Homo sapiens: one gene and its partners. The protein of the gene in region 3 purifies or fractionates together with the protein of the main gene of each other region. This does not show direct contact. Each region holds a gene or a part of one and is shown on either strand. Other genes may lie near its edges.

Evidence for each region. The genes of interacting proteins can lie anywhere in the genome.
Region 1: the proteins of MPG (region 3) and LARP4 purify together in Homo sapiens (affinity purification with mass spectrometry, with the first as the bait; one study listed by BioGRID). This does not show direct contact.
Region 2: the proteins of MPG (region 3) and GOT2 purify together in Homo sapiens (affinity purification with mass spectrometry; one large-scale study listed by BioGRID and IntAct). This does not show direct contact.
Region 4: the proteins of MPG (region 3) and ETFA purify together in Homo sapiens (co-immunoprecipitation; one large-scale study listed by IntAct). This does not show direct contact.

What each region holds. Positions count from the first base shown.
Region 1 is NC_000012.12:50,477,195-50,480,504, reverse strand, and holds the end of LARP4 (la-related protein 4), read right to left. Parts: 3' UTR 501-3,310; downstream 1-500. UniProt on the Homo sapiens protein: RNA binding protein that binds to the poly-A tract of mRNA molecules. Associates with the 40S ribosomal subunit and with polysomes. Plays a role in the regulation of mRNA translation.
Region 2 is NC_000016.10:58,720,817-58,724,316, forward strand, and holds part of GOT2 (aspartate aminotransferase, mitochondrial isoform 1 precursor), read right to left. Parts: intron 3,087-3,500; coding exon 2,930-3,086; intron 1,463-2,929; coding exon 1,334-1,462; intron 1-1,333. UniProt on the Homo sapiens protein: Catalyzes the irreversible transamination of the L-tryptophan metabolite L-kynurenine to form kynurenic acid (KA). As a member of the malate-aspartate shuttle, it has a key role in the intracellular NAD(H) redox balance.
Region 3 is NC_000016.10:81,225-83,785, forward strand, and holds part of MPG (DNA-3-methyladenine glycosylase), read left to right. Parts: intron 1-1,827; coding exon 1,828-2,032; intron 2,033-2,561. UniProt on the Homo sapiens protein: Hydrolysis of the deoxyribose N-glycosidic bond to excise 3-methyladenine, and 7-methylguanine from the damaged DNA polymer formed by alkylation lesions.
Region 4 is NC_000015.10:76,290,970-76,294,469, forward strand, and holds part of ETFA (electron transfer flavoprotein subunit alpha, mitochondrial), read right to left. Parts: intron 1,732-3,500; coding exon 1,650-1,731; intron 1,545-1,649; coding exon 1,462-1,544; intron 1-1,461. UniProt on the Homo sapiens protein: Heterodimeric electron transfer flavoprotein that accepts electrons from several mitochondrial dehydrogenases, including acyl-CoA dehydrogenases, glutaryl-CoA and sarcosine dehydrogenase.

The sequences.
Region 1 (3,310 bases), on a different chromosome or scaffold from region 3:
AGAGTGCAATGGCGCGATCCTGGCTCACTGCCATGTCCACCTTCCAGGTTCAAGCGATTCTCCTGCCTCAGCTTCCCAAGTAGCTGGGATTACAGGTGCCCACCACCATGCCTGGCTAATTTTTGTATTTTTAGTAGAGATGGGGTTTCACCATGTTGGCCAGGGTGGGCTTGAACTCCTGGCCCCAGGTGATCCGCCCGCCTTGGCCTCCCAAAGTGTTGGGATTACAGGCGTGAGCTACCGCGCCCAGCCATTTTTCACCCTTTAATAACTGCTTCTGATACTAAAATAACTAAAAGAATACCCCAGGATCATAAAGCTGTATCTTGTCTCTCTGCCCTTGTTTTAAGTGAAACACCATTACTTCCCACTGCCCTCATCATCCAAAAAACAACTTAGACAATAATAATAATAGAATTAGCGAGGGCAACATATAATACTGAAAGGTAGACAGAAGTAGTCATTAGACATACACCACCTAGAGAAAAGGAAACCAGTCCTGCTTTTTAATAATTTTATTTTTTTTCTAATTTTGTTAATTTCCCATAGCACCTTGGCGATGTTGAAAACAAATACAAATACAAGGATGTACTCATTTTAACATTTTATGCATGAGCATGTGTCACACCAATTTTGGGGGTAACAGTTTTGACAACAGGAACAAATCTAAGCAATCGACAAAACAGAAGCCGGATAACTGGCTCTGACCCCCACCCCCAACATTTAAGAGATGCAAAGGACACCTGAATTAGGTTAAAAAAATCAAGTTGATATGGATATTTCAACAGTGTTCTGTGCTGCAAAACTGAAAATAAAACCATTTAATACACAGCCCATTAATATCTGAGTTACGCTTTTAGGAACTGTCAACTCGAAGATTCATAAAAAGTTGTCAGCTTTTAAAAATAAACTTTAAGTTATCTAATAATCAGGTGAATTTCAAAGGAGGATTTACTCACAACTTGAAAATAAATTCTCTTTCAACTTCTTAAAATATCCTCATTCAGCTAATGAAAAGGGAAACATATATGTATCTTTTCGGAAGCTCAGACTAGCATATGCCCAAAAGCCTAAAGTTAAATTAATGGCCACCAAAATTGTAAGGAAATATAAAAAATTAGGAAAAAATCCATCATATATTATAGTTAATAATTTATAAAAGCCCCTCAGAAGGAATACACTGTTCTCTTTTGAGTTTTATCTTTTCTGTAAAAACAAAATTGGTACTTTTAAAATATGGTTAATATATATATTGCCAGCCTAAATACCAGAGACTTAACCCCAGTGTTGTTCAACTGTGTCAAAGTAAAACCAGTGGACATTTAAGCCAAGAGACTAATTATTAAGGCCATAACTAAGAAAACTAGAGAAGTGTTCATTAACTTTTAAATACTATTTTACGTTCCAGCAACATTCTTTTTGTTCTTCTTTACCCTAGTGAAGATGCTAACATTCCATCATTAAGCCTTTCCAAAGCAAACCTGTTTATTTAAAAAAGAAAAAGGAATGTGAAATAATATTCAAGCTATCTTAATTTTAGGAAACAAAAATAAATCAGAATTCTGCACAGCATCTGATCATCTGCAAATTCAGCACATAAGACAACTACAACAAACCTTTATCATTGAAAGCTCTTATATTCCTCAAAACCCAGCTGAAAAAAATTTAGATGGATCACTATTTTAAATGTCAGTGTATTTGGCAAAATTAAAATTACTCAGAGACAGGCCCTAGGTATTATGAAAACCTTAATTATCAGGATAGCAAATGGAGACAGGTTTTGCAATGTCTCTATGTACCTTCTCTATGAAGTGCAAAGTGGTGAACTTGTGTGACTCTTGTTCTCTTCATGCAGTAAGAACTATGGCAGAGTATCACTATACCCAACATTCAATATCATTTATACCTACTTTTAGCCTCCAACAGATCAAGGAAATGTCAAGTCATAAAGGTGAAGAGAAAAATTTGATTTTTTAAATTCCTCCATCTAAAGAACCAAATAAATAAACTACAATGAACATCCACCCTCATTAGTTACAAAGTAACGTTGGAAAAAAGCCAAGAGCTTCACACAACTCATAGGCATTATTTAGATACAAACTTTAAATCTGCTGTAATAAAATAAATGCTAAATACATACTGTGAATATATATAAATATTACACACACATACACACACACACACTCTCTCACTCTTCCCTATACATGCCATCAAATGGGAACTATTAGATGTAATGAGGCAAATTAAATTAAAAACATTGTCTTAATGAGAAAATTTTTAAAGGTTATATCTACAAATTAAATTTCTACTTTAAATAACATTTGAAGTAAAAGCAAAAATATACTTGCTTTCTTCTAAAAGAAGGCTCTTTTCTTGTATTTCAATTACAACCTTTAAATTTTTAGAGCTGGACTAACAGTAAGTCACACAAGCATACAAGTAATACAGACCTACATTTGTGACACATTGTTTAAAAAAAGTAATGTTTCATTTTAAGTGCAGTAATTAAGTTTATAATCCTTACCAAGTGATTTTTACAAAATGTTTATTCTCTGAAATCCAACGCATTCAAAGGATGTTAACACTTAAAACGTTTATCATTTCCACCAACTGCATTATCTTAGTAAACCAAAATAAGCACTTTTATCATAGATGTAGTCAATGATTAATATGTTTTTTTAAAGGACCTAAACTTCCCCCAAATTTCAGCACAGGTAGTTTTATTGTTATGTTTCACCTAGTAGGCAATTTTTAAAAATAGTGTGTAGAAATGAATAGTTTCAAACTGAGTAAATATAGTAGTATACCATGTCATAAAACAATCAAATCAAAAGCAACTGCCAAGCTAATAATAAGTCAAAGAAATAGTAATTCTGGCTTGTACAGATATGTGCAGTGTTTTCAAAGCTCTTAACAGTTAACCACTAACATGTATCTCCAAAGCTTAACTTAGAGTTGGAAGATGAATTTCACAGTAATGTAATTTTAACCACCATTTACATTCACTTTAATATATTACTAAGATGTTTACTCTATGTCACAATGGTGCTTTCCAGTGTTCACAATTTACAGTTTCAATTTGTACATATGTAATTTACTAACATATGGGACAGTTCTTACTATTACAAACTATCCCTTAAAAGAAAAATAAAACCCACCTTACATAGAACTCTGAACATGGTATGACTTAAAACAGATTAACACAACACGGTTTTTAATATTTTAGTCATTTTCTAAATAACAGCATGTAAACTTGTCTATTTAGTATATGAGAGCTACAACTTTATTCACTGAGAAATTATGCACTAAT
Region 2 (3,500 bases), about 59 Mb from region 3:
CTCAGGTGATCCACCCGCCTTGGTCCCGGAAAGTGCTGGGATTACAGGAGTGAGCCACTGCGCCCGGCTGAGGCACAACAACTTATAAAAGACAAGCTGATGTTATTTTAAGGTAGGCCAGTTTCATACTTAGGTTGTTATTTAGATGGAGCAGAGACTAGGCAAAAGAGCACATGAATTAAAAAGTACAGAAATTTCCAGGAGGGGCTAACAGGCAGTTGACTGTATGGACAGAACTAAACCAAATTCTATTTGACGTAGGATAATTACTACATAACCCTGGGGTTGAGGTTGTGTGCTTTACTCTGAGTTAACGAATTCATGTGTGGACTTAGACCAGTCTTGTAAATAAAGTGTATTTATTCTGGCTTTTCAGAGGGGGAAGGGCAGAAAAAATGTTGACTTAATTTTGCTAGTTTGTATGTTTCTTCACTCCCCAGGCTTACCCAGAAAAACGTACAAATGCACTCACTAAAAAACATGTTTTTTTCAAAAGAAAGTGAACCACAATGTGCACGAGTTCACATGTTGGGAGCGTGGTCTTCTTTCTGTGTCCATGTGGGCTGTGAAGGGACAGCAGAGGGCTGCCAGACTGGTCCAGCCCCCACAGTCCACCCATGGCTTGTTTCCTGCTTGCTGCTTCTGTGCAAGTTGGAAGCTTAGGACATGAGGGTGTGGGCTAACTGCAGGCTTAAAACTCGGCATAGTTAACATTTCTAAAGCATATTTGATGTAAAATGAACATAAGCAGGTAGAGACTAACAGCAAAAGTAACATCAAATCTATCAGTCAAATGACTACCGCATTTTCAGGATTACTACTAGTACATTTTTGGAATTGGTGTCATGTAAATTATTTTATTTAATGATGGCAATTTACTATCAAATAAGAATTATTAGAAATAGTGTGGCCTCCTCAAAACAATCATTACACACAAAATGAGTTATCTTTTCATATTTCTTAAATTTTTTTTTTTTTTTTGAGATGGAGTTCTGCTGTTGTTGCCCAGGCTGGAGTTCAATGGCATGATCTTGGCTCACCACAACCTCTGCCTTCCAGGTTCAAGTGATTCTCCTGCCTAAGCCTCCTGAGTAGCTGGGATTACAGGCATGTGTCACCATGCCCGGCTAATTTTGTATTTTTAGTAGAGATGGGGTTTCTCCATGTTAATCAGGCTGGTCTCGAACTCCCGACCTCAGATGAACCACCCGCCTTGGCCTCCCAAAGTGGTGGGATTACAGGCGTGAGCCATCGCGCCTGGCCTAAAATTGTTTAAATAATTACAAATTTGTTAAAACAGACCTGGGATGATGCCAGAGCCTGCTCAGCTTACCCGGCCACTCTTCAAGACTTCGCTGTTCTCACCCAGGGCTAGTTCTGCAGATGCCTTGCAAAATTCAGCCAGTCCCCCAATGGGCAGGTATTCCTTGTCCAAATTTTTTGCGGCAATCTGGGCCTCTGCCTAGACAAGAGAAAATACATCCATTGAATTTCTTCTCCTTACTTGGAATTACTATGATTAATGTTTAAAGTTTTATAAGTTAAGTTTTGGAGGTAAAGTCTTTTTTTTTTGAGATGGAGTTTTGCTCTGTCACCCAGGCTGGAGTGCAGTAGTGTGATCTCGGCTCACTGCAACCTCCACCTCCCGGGTTCAAGTGATTGTCTTGCTTCAGCCTCCCGAGTAGCTGGGATTACAGGCGTGCACCACCACGCCCAGCTAATTTTGTATTTTTAGTAGATACGGGGTTTCACTATGTTGGCCAGGCTGGTCTCGAACTCCTGACCTCAGGTGATCCACCTGCCTCGGCCTCCTAAAGTGCTGGGATTACAGGCATGAGCCACTGCGCCCGGCCAAACCTTTTTTTAAAATTTGAAGTTACTCTCTGAGAAGAAGGGTAGGTAGAATGCTTGATAGTTTGTATTGCAGAACAGAAATACTTTCTTTTTCAAATTGTATTTTATTGTTTAAGTTAGGTTTTATGTGGATGGGTATAGTCTCTCTTGGTTACAATTTAACATAAAATGAGATTCTTGGAATGCACAAGACCAAGGTTTAAGAGCAACACCTAAAATAGATATAAGATGATTAAATCAAACTAAATACAAAAGAGAAAGCATGTCAAGCTATATGCCAGTCTAAGAACTTCGAAGTGTTAACAGTAATAGCCACACATCTTCGTGCTTTGGCATTGGAAGCCTGGCTGTCCCTTACAAGTTGTGTTACCCTAGGCAAGTTATTTAGCCTTCCTGAGCCTCAGTTTCCTCCTCTGTTAAATGGAGGAACTATTTCTACCTCTCACAGTGTTGAGGTGAAGTGTGAATGAGGGAATGTACAATAGTGCTTGGTAGTGATGCAGGTTGCAGTAGCAAATACTTGCTGAATAACTTAAAAAATTATTCTAAGGGGATTTGTTATATTATTTAGTTAACAAATAAAGATGCTACTAATAAAAATATAACAAAAGAAAGAGGTGAAAATTGCATAGCTCAGCAGGAAGAAAGGACAGAGCATGCCTGTGTACAAAGGTTTGATTAAAGTAATCACAGTTAGAGAAATGGAAAATAAAAATAGTAATCCACGAAGAGCTATTCCTCTCAACAAGAGACAGCGCTTAAAGTCTTGGTCCTCTTATGCACCTTCAGGATTAAAGTAGGCATAGCTAAGCATTTCTAAAGCGTATTTAATGTCTGTTTTATAGATGATCACAGAACCATAGAAAGTTCAATCTTGGGAAAAAACAGGTGGTTCCAACCTCTCACCTTTACAGTCAAGGAGACTACAGCCCAGAAAACCCGGGTGATTCATGCCATTAGTGCCAGAACTAAAGCCCAGGGCTCCTGATTCCCGGTCCAGCACTATTCCTGCCACTCTCCAGGGCTCTCTTCAGTTTATTCATCCCATTCAAAAGGAGATGAACAGCAAGCTCACCTTGCGGACGCTAGGCAGAACGTAAGGCTTTCCATTATCATCCCGGTAGGCACCAACTCCCAGATTCATCTTTTTGCTATTGGTGTCCCTCTTAAAGGCTTCAGTGACTCCCAGAATGGGATCTGGAGGTCCCATTTCCACATGGGTCCACCAGGAGCTGAAATGAGAAACACATTAGCTCAATCCCATTAGCTAGATCCAAGATCCATTTTACTTATTTATTTATGAGATAGACTCTTGCTCTGTTGCCCAGGCTGGAGTGCAGTGGTGCTATCTTGGCTCACTGCAGCGTTTGCCTCCTGGGCTCAAGTGATTCTCCCACTCCAGCCTCCCAAGTAGCTGGGATTACAGGCATGCATTACCACGTCAGCTAATTTTTGTATTTTTAGTGGAGATGGGGTTTCACCATGTTGGCCAGGCTGGTTTTAAACTCCAGACCTCAAGTGATCCACCGCACCCGGCCATATTACTCTTATATATTTAAAATTATGAAAAATACAAATTTGTGTTAAATAAAATTGAATTGCTATTCTGACAAACTTTTTTTTTTTTTTTGAGACAGAGTCTCGCT
Region 3 (2,561 bases):
GTGTTGGCCATGGGGGTGGGGAGGGGTGAGAGGCCCCAGTATCTGCCACTGGTGGAAATGGTATCAGTGAAATCCTGATCAGAAATTTGGGATGGAAAAGGAAACAATGAGAAAAGGGCTGTGGGAACCTCCTCTCCAGAGTGGTAGTTGGGCCCCCCCAGTGTGCCCCCATGGAGGCACAGGAGTGTGCAGAGTGAAGCCCCTGGAGGGGCATTCCCTCTAAGCTCCAGGGAAGATGGAACAGGGCCACCCTTTCTCCCCTGGACATGGCCTGGCCAAGCCTGGCCTGTTCACTTCTGTCCTCATGGCTCTGGATGCCTAAGGATTTCTGGGCTTCCCGCCCAGGCACTGACCCCTTCTTCCCACCACCCTATCTCCAGGAAGGCCTCCTGAATGCTCCCCACACTGACCCCTTCTTCCCACCACCCTATCTCCGGGAAGGCCTCCTGAATGCTCCCCACACTGACCCCTTCTTCCCACCACCCTATCTCCGGGAAGGCCTCCTGAATGCTCCCCACACTGACCCCTTCTTCCCACCACCCTACCTCCGGGAAGCCCTCCTGAATGCTCCCGGCGCTGACCCCTTCTTCCCACCACCCTATCTCCGGGAAGGCCTCCTGAATGCTCCCGGCGCTGACCCCTTCTTCCCACCACCCTACCTCCGGGAAGGCCTCCTGAATGCTCCCCGCGCTGACCCCTTCTTCCCACCACCCTACCTCCAGGAAGCCCTCCTGAATGCTCCCCGCGCTGACCCCTTCTTCCCACCACCCTATCTCCGGGAAGCCCTCCTGAATGCTCCCCACGCTGGCCCCTTCTTCCCACCACCCTACCTCCGGGAAGGCCTCCTGAATGCTCCCCACGCTGGCCCCTTCTTCCCACCACCCTACCTCCGGGAAGCCCTCCTGAATGCTCCCCACGCTGGCCCCTTCTTCCCACCACCCTATCTCCGGGAAGCCCTCCTGAATGCTCCCCGCGCTGACCCCTTCTTCCCACCACCCTATCTCCGGGAAGCCCTCCTGAATGCTCCCCCGGCGAGCATCTAAGCTCCAGTGCCCCTCCTCCCCAGCCCGTGATACTGACCATGGCCTTTGGCACCACAGGGCTTCGTGGGCTGAGGTGAAGGTAGCCTGGCTGTCCAGCTGACCTATCTGGCCTAAAAACGAGAGGTGCAGGGGATGTGGTTGGTCCCCAGTGCTCTGCTGTTAACTCTGGGGCTCCGAGCAGTGACACAACTGTTGGCCGTTACCAGGACCATGGTCCAGGCTGGGGCACCGTGGGGCAGCTGGGCCTACTGCTCAGAAAGCCGGAGGGTGGGAGCTGAGTATGAGGGTCCCTTGTGGCCACCTCAGCAGCCCAGGTTTAGGGGACTTCACGGGCTCTGGGATTGCCCAGGTAGCTGGTGTGGGGACATCCTTGGGGTCCTGTGCCTTCCGTGATGCCTGGCCTCGTGCTAAATGCTGATGGTTTTCTCAAGGGCACTTGGGAAAGGAGGAATCTGGGGAATGGAGGGTCCTGCTGAGAGGACTTGACCTGCAAGGTGAATCCATGACTGCCGGTTCCCAGCCCAGCCTGGCTGTGGCCTGAGGTATCTTCGGCCTGCGGTCTGGTTGTCTAGCAGGGCTGGAGGAGACAACTGGTGCCCTCAATAGCCACATTCAGCCTCAGCAGGAGCAAGAGAAGAGGCAGGATGGAGACGGGGCAAGGTCCCTGGCTAGACCTGGGCGGCTGACACACCCTGAGCTGGGGAGATGAGGTCCAGGCTGGGCACTGTTAGGGTGAGTGGACCCCCATCCCTTCCCGCCCTGAGCAGAAACTGACTGCCCACAGGTCCTAGTCCGGCGACTTCCTAATGGCACAGAACTCCGAGGCCGCATCGTGGAGACCGAGGCATACCTGGGGCCAGAGGATGAAGCCGCCCACTCAAGGGGTGGCCGGCAGACCCCCCGCAACCGAGGCATGTTCATGAAGCCGGGGACCCTGTACGTGTACATCATTTACGGCATGTACTTCTGCATGAACATCTCCAGCCAGGGTGAGCAGTGCTGGGGCACGGGGGGTTGGAGGGCCGGCAGAGCCCTGTCCGCTAGCAGCCAGGGGACCACTAGGAGGACTGAGGTGGGGCCAGCATTTGAGCGAGGAGGTGCCACTTCCAGGCCAGGCCAGGGTTTCGGGAGCTCTGGCTACGCTGACGGGGCAGGGCTGGTTAGGTTAAAGGGGTAGAAAGGGCCGGGTGGGGCCGGGCGCGGTGGCTCACGCCTGTCATCCCAGCACTTCGGGAGGCCGAGGCGGGCGGATCACCTGAGGTCAGGAGTTCGACACCAGCCTGGCCAACACGGTGAAACTCTGTCTCTACCAAAAATACAAAAATTAGCTGGGTGTGGTAGTGGGCTCCTGTAATCCCAGCTACTAGGGAGGCGGAGGCAGGAGAATCGCTTGAACCCGGGAGGCGGAGGTTGCAGGGAGCCAAGATCGCGCCATTGCACTCCAGCCTGGGTGACAGAGCGAGACTCCATCTCAAAAAAAAAAAAAAAGGAAAGGAAAAGAAAGGGTTGGTTGGAGTG
Region 4 (3,500 bases), on a different chromosome or scaffold from region 3:
CTTTGGGAGGCTGAAATGAGAGGATGACTTGAGGCCAGGAGTTTAAGACAAGCCCGCACAACATAGGGAGACTACATCGATACAAAAAATTTGAAAATTAGCTGGGCATGGTGGCATGTACCTGTAGTCCTAGCTACTCAGAAGGCTAGGATAGGAGGATCGTTTGAGCCCACAAGTTGGAGGGTATGTTGAGCTACAATCGTGCCACTGCACTCCAGTCTGGGCAACAGAGCTAGGCTGAAGCAGGCAGATCACCTGAGGTCAGGAGTTCGAGACCAGCCTGGTCAACACGGCGAAACCCTGTCTCTACTAAACATACAAAAATTAGCCAGGTGTGGTGGCACGCACCTATAATCCCAGCTACACACGGGAGGCTGAGGCAGGAGAATGGCTTGAACCCAGGAGGTAGAGGTTGCAGTGAGCTGAGATTGTGCTGCTGCACTCCAGCCTGGGCGAGGAAAGTAAGACTCCATCTCGAAAAAAAAAAAAAAAAAAAGTAGGCCAGGCGCGGTGGCTCACGCCTGTAATCCCAGTACTTTGGGGGGCCGAGGCGGGCGGATCACGAGGTCAGGAGATCAAGACCATCCTGGCTAACACAGTGAAACCCCGTCTCTACTAAAAATACAAAAAATTAGCCGGGCGAGCTGGCGGGCGCCTGTAGTCCCAGCTACTCGGGAGGCTGAGGCAGGAGAATGGCGTGAACCCCGGGGGGCGGAGCCTGCAGTGAGCCGAGATGGCGCCACTGCACTCCAACCTGGGCGACAGTGAGACTCCATCTCAAAAAAAAGAAAGTAAAAATAAAGACTAAAAATGACACCTTATTAAGAATGGAACAAAAGAAAAGAGAGCTAAGATAACACCCACGGCCACAGAGAGAGAGCAAGAAAAATCCACTGACGAATTCCTTGTCTTAAGCTCCCATTACACTCCTCCCTCCATTTTTAACTTTATGTAGACTGCTATCCATCTTATAACACACTCATTCTTCAGACACATCACAATGCACATGATCAGATTACAGCTTTCTTTACCTTAAGGATGTCTTCAACCACCACAAGCCCTTTCCAAATTCCCTACGTAGATAAAATTTGGCTTTTCTAGATATCCATCAGCCATCCAAATAAACCATCTCTTAAAATGGGCTACTAATAGAAATGACTCTTGCTCGTTCACTCTCTCTCTCACATGCAAGCAGAATTCAGCATTACTTTTACATGCAGAAAATTTTAAAATAATAGCCTAATTAGAGTTTTCTCCACAACATAATTTGAAAACCTGGAAATGGTAGTTTTAACGGAAAATTATGACAAAATCTTGAAAGAATAAATTTTAGCAAAACTACCACATCAATTCAGATAAATCCAGATTGGCTACATAAACAGTCTGTTGCATACTTTCAGCACAATGAAATCTAACCCTTTCAAGCAGTGATATCAGATTCCACATTCTCAACCTTCTCACCTTTCCGAAGGCAGATGCTCCAGCACAGATGTGTGTGTAATTGAACTGCTTCTGAGTTGCCAAAATCAATGGTGTCAGTTCCTCTGAGAATTAAACACATTTGATAAAAAAATATTTTGAAATACTTTCATATTCATATATTCAAGCGTAATTTAGACACTACATTTTTTTCTACTGGAAAACCTCACCTGGAAGTAGGCCTTTGTACACATCATGCTGAGCCACCAGAACTTTTGCTATGCCTGCTACTTTACAGAGATCTTGTGCCACCTATGATTAAAAGATAAGTTCCTAATTATCCATCTATCAGAAATATACAAATAAAGCCACCACTATAAATATCAACAGATCATAAAATCTTAATGGCCAACTGTAAAAATTATTCTTATTAGCAAAAGGGCCAGTTAAGAATTAAAATATATTCCGGCCGGGCGCAGTGGCTCAAGCCTGTAATCCCAGCACTCTGAGAGGCTGAGGCAGGCAGATCACCGGAGTCAAGAGTTCAAGACCAGCCTGGCCAACATGGTGAAACCCCATCTCTACTAAAAATACAAAAATTAGCTAGGCATGGTGGCGGGCACCTGTAATCCCAGCTACTTGGGAGACTGAGGCAAGAGAATGGCTTGAACCCAGGAGGCGGAGGTTACAGTGAGCCAAGATCACACCACTTCACTCCAGACTGGGCGAAAGAGTGAAACTCCATCTCAAACAAACAAAGAATTAAAATATTAAAATACATTCCTTAACAAAGAAAATCTAATGCCAATAGATCTTACTACTGACTGACCTTACACTGTCCAACTACCAAGCATTTCAACAAAAATTCCTGCCTTGAAAAAGAAAAGTGCTAATTGACAAACCAAAATCAACATGGCTCTTTATTCAAATTTTGTTATAAATTGTGCTTTTTACTTTTGGTTCAATCCAAGTGTAAGTTCAATGTCCTGGAAATGGTGAAAATGAAGTTCTCTAGTAACATCCCATTGTCAACCACTGAGTTCCTGCCCACATACACATATTTATCTATGACAAAGCAAAATATTTCCTATTTTAATTCTTCATTTTTCCTGTTTGGAATTAGAATGGGGTTCTGAGAAAGCTTTTTGATGATTCAGATTTTCTATATTCAGAAGGCAATTAGATTTCCCCTTTTTAAGTATCTTTATTACCTCATGGCTGGTTTCCACTTTAGCTAAGTCATATCAGTCATACTATCGTCTTCTGTCTCCTTGTTTACCTCCAAACTGATTCATTGATTCACTGATGAGTAGGATTAAAAGGCTGTGCCTTGTGCCACCCTCATATGAACTGTTAGCTTGCAACAATATTCACTGAAGAAAGGATGCAGTGCAAGAATACATTCTCTGCTAAACCAAGTGTTCACCGGCATACCATTTGTACTACAGAGGCCCTTTATTATGGATGCAGCTGCATTTAGCTTCTCAAACTTTAAGAGAATTTCCAATTAAGAAACTCAGTTAATTGCAATGTAGCTGCATAGCAGCATGGGATAGAAAATGGGGCAGAATTTTCCCATTGAAACTATCTTGTTTTTACTGGCAAAACGGCTGGCATTATACAGAAGAATAACTTGCTGTTTATGACAAGTAGCTGAATAAAATGGTATAAAACCGAACTCTATTAAACGATCTCTTCATACAGGTACTGGTTGTTTTCTTTAAAATTAGAACATGACAGGTTAGGATTGTAACTGAGTACAGAAGACGATTTCTATTTTGATTTTTCTCAAAGTAGTATAAAGTATCAAAGTCTTTTTAAAGTAATATTACAATAATTATTTTAAATCACAGCAAAACAAACAACAAATCACAAATTCCTATATATCCAAAAACAGGGAAACCAAAAAGATAGCTTAGCCATCATATACTGTGGCTAATACAGACATACAAATAGATAGCTTAGCCATCACACATCACACATTGTGGCTGTATCAACTATGTAAGATCCTACAGTTGTTAGCAGGAATTGGGTAAAGAAATCCACATAACTAATCATAAACCCACCAGAATATGTTCTTT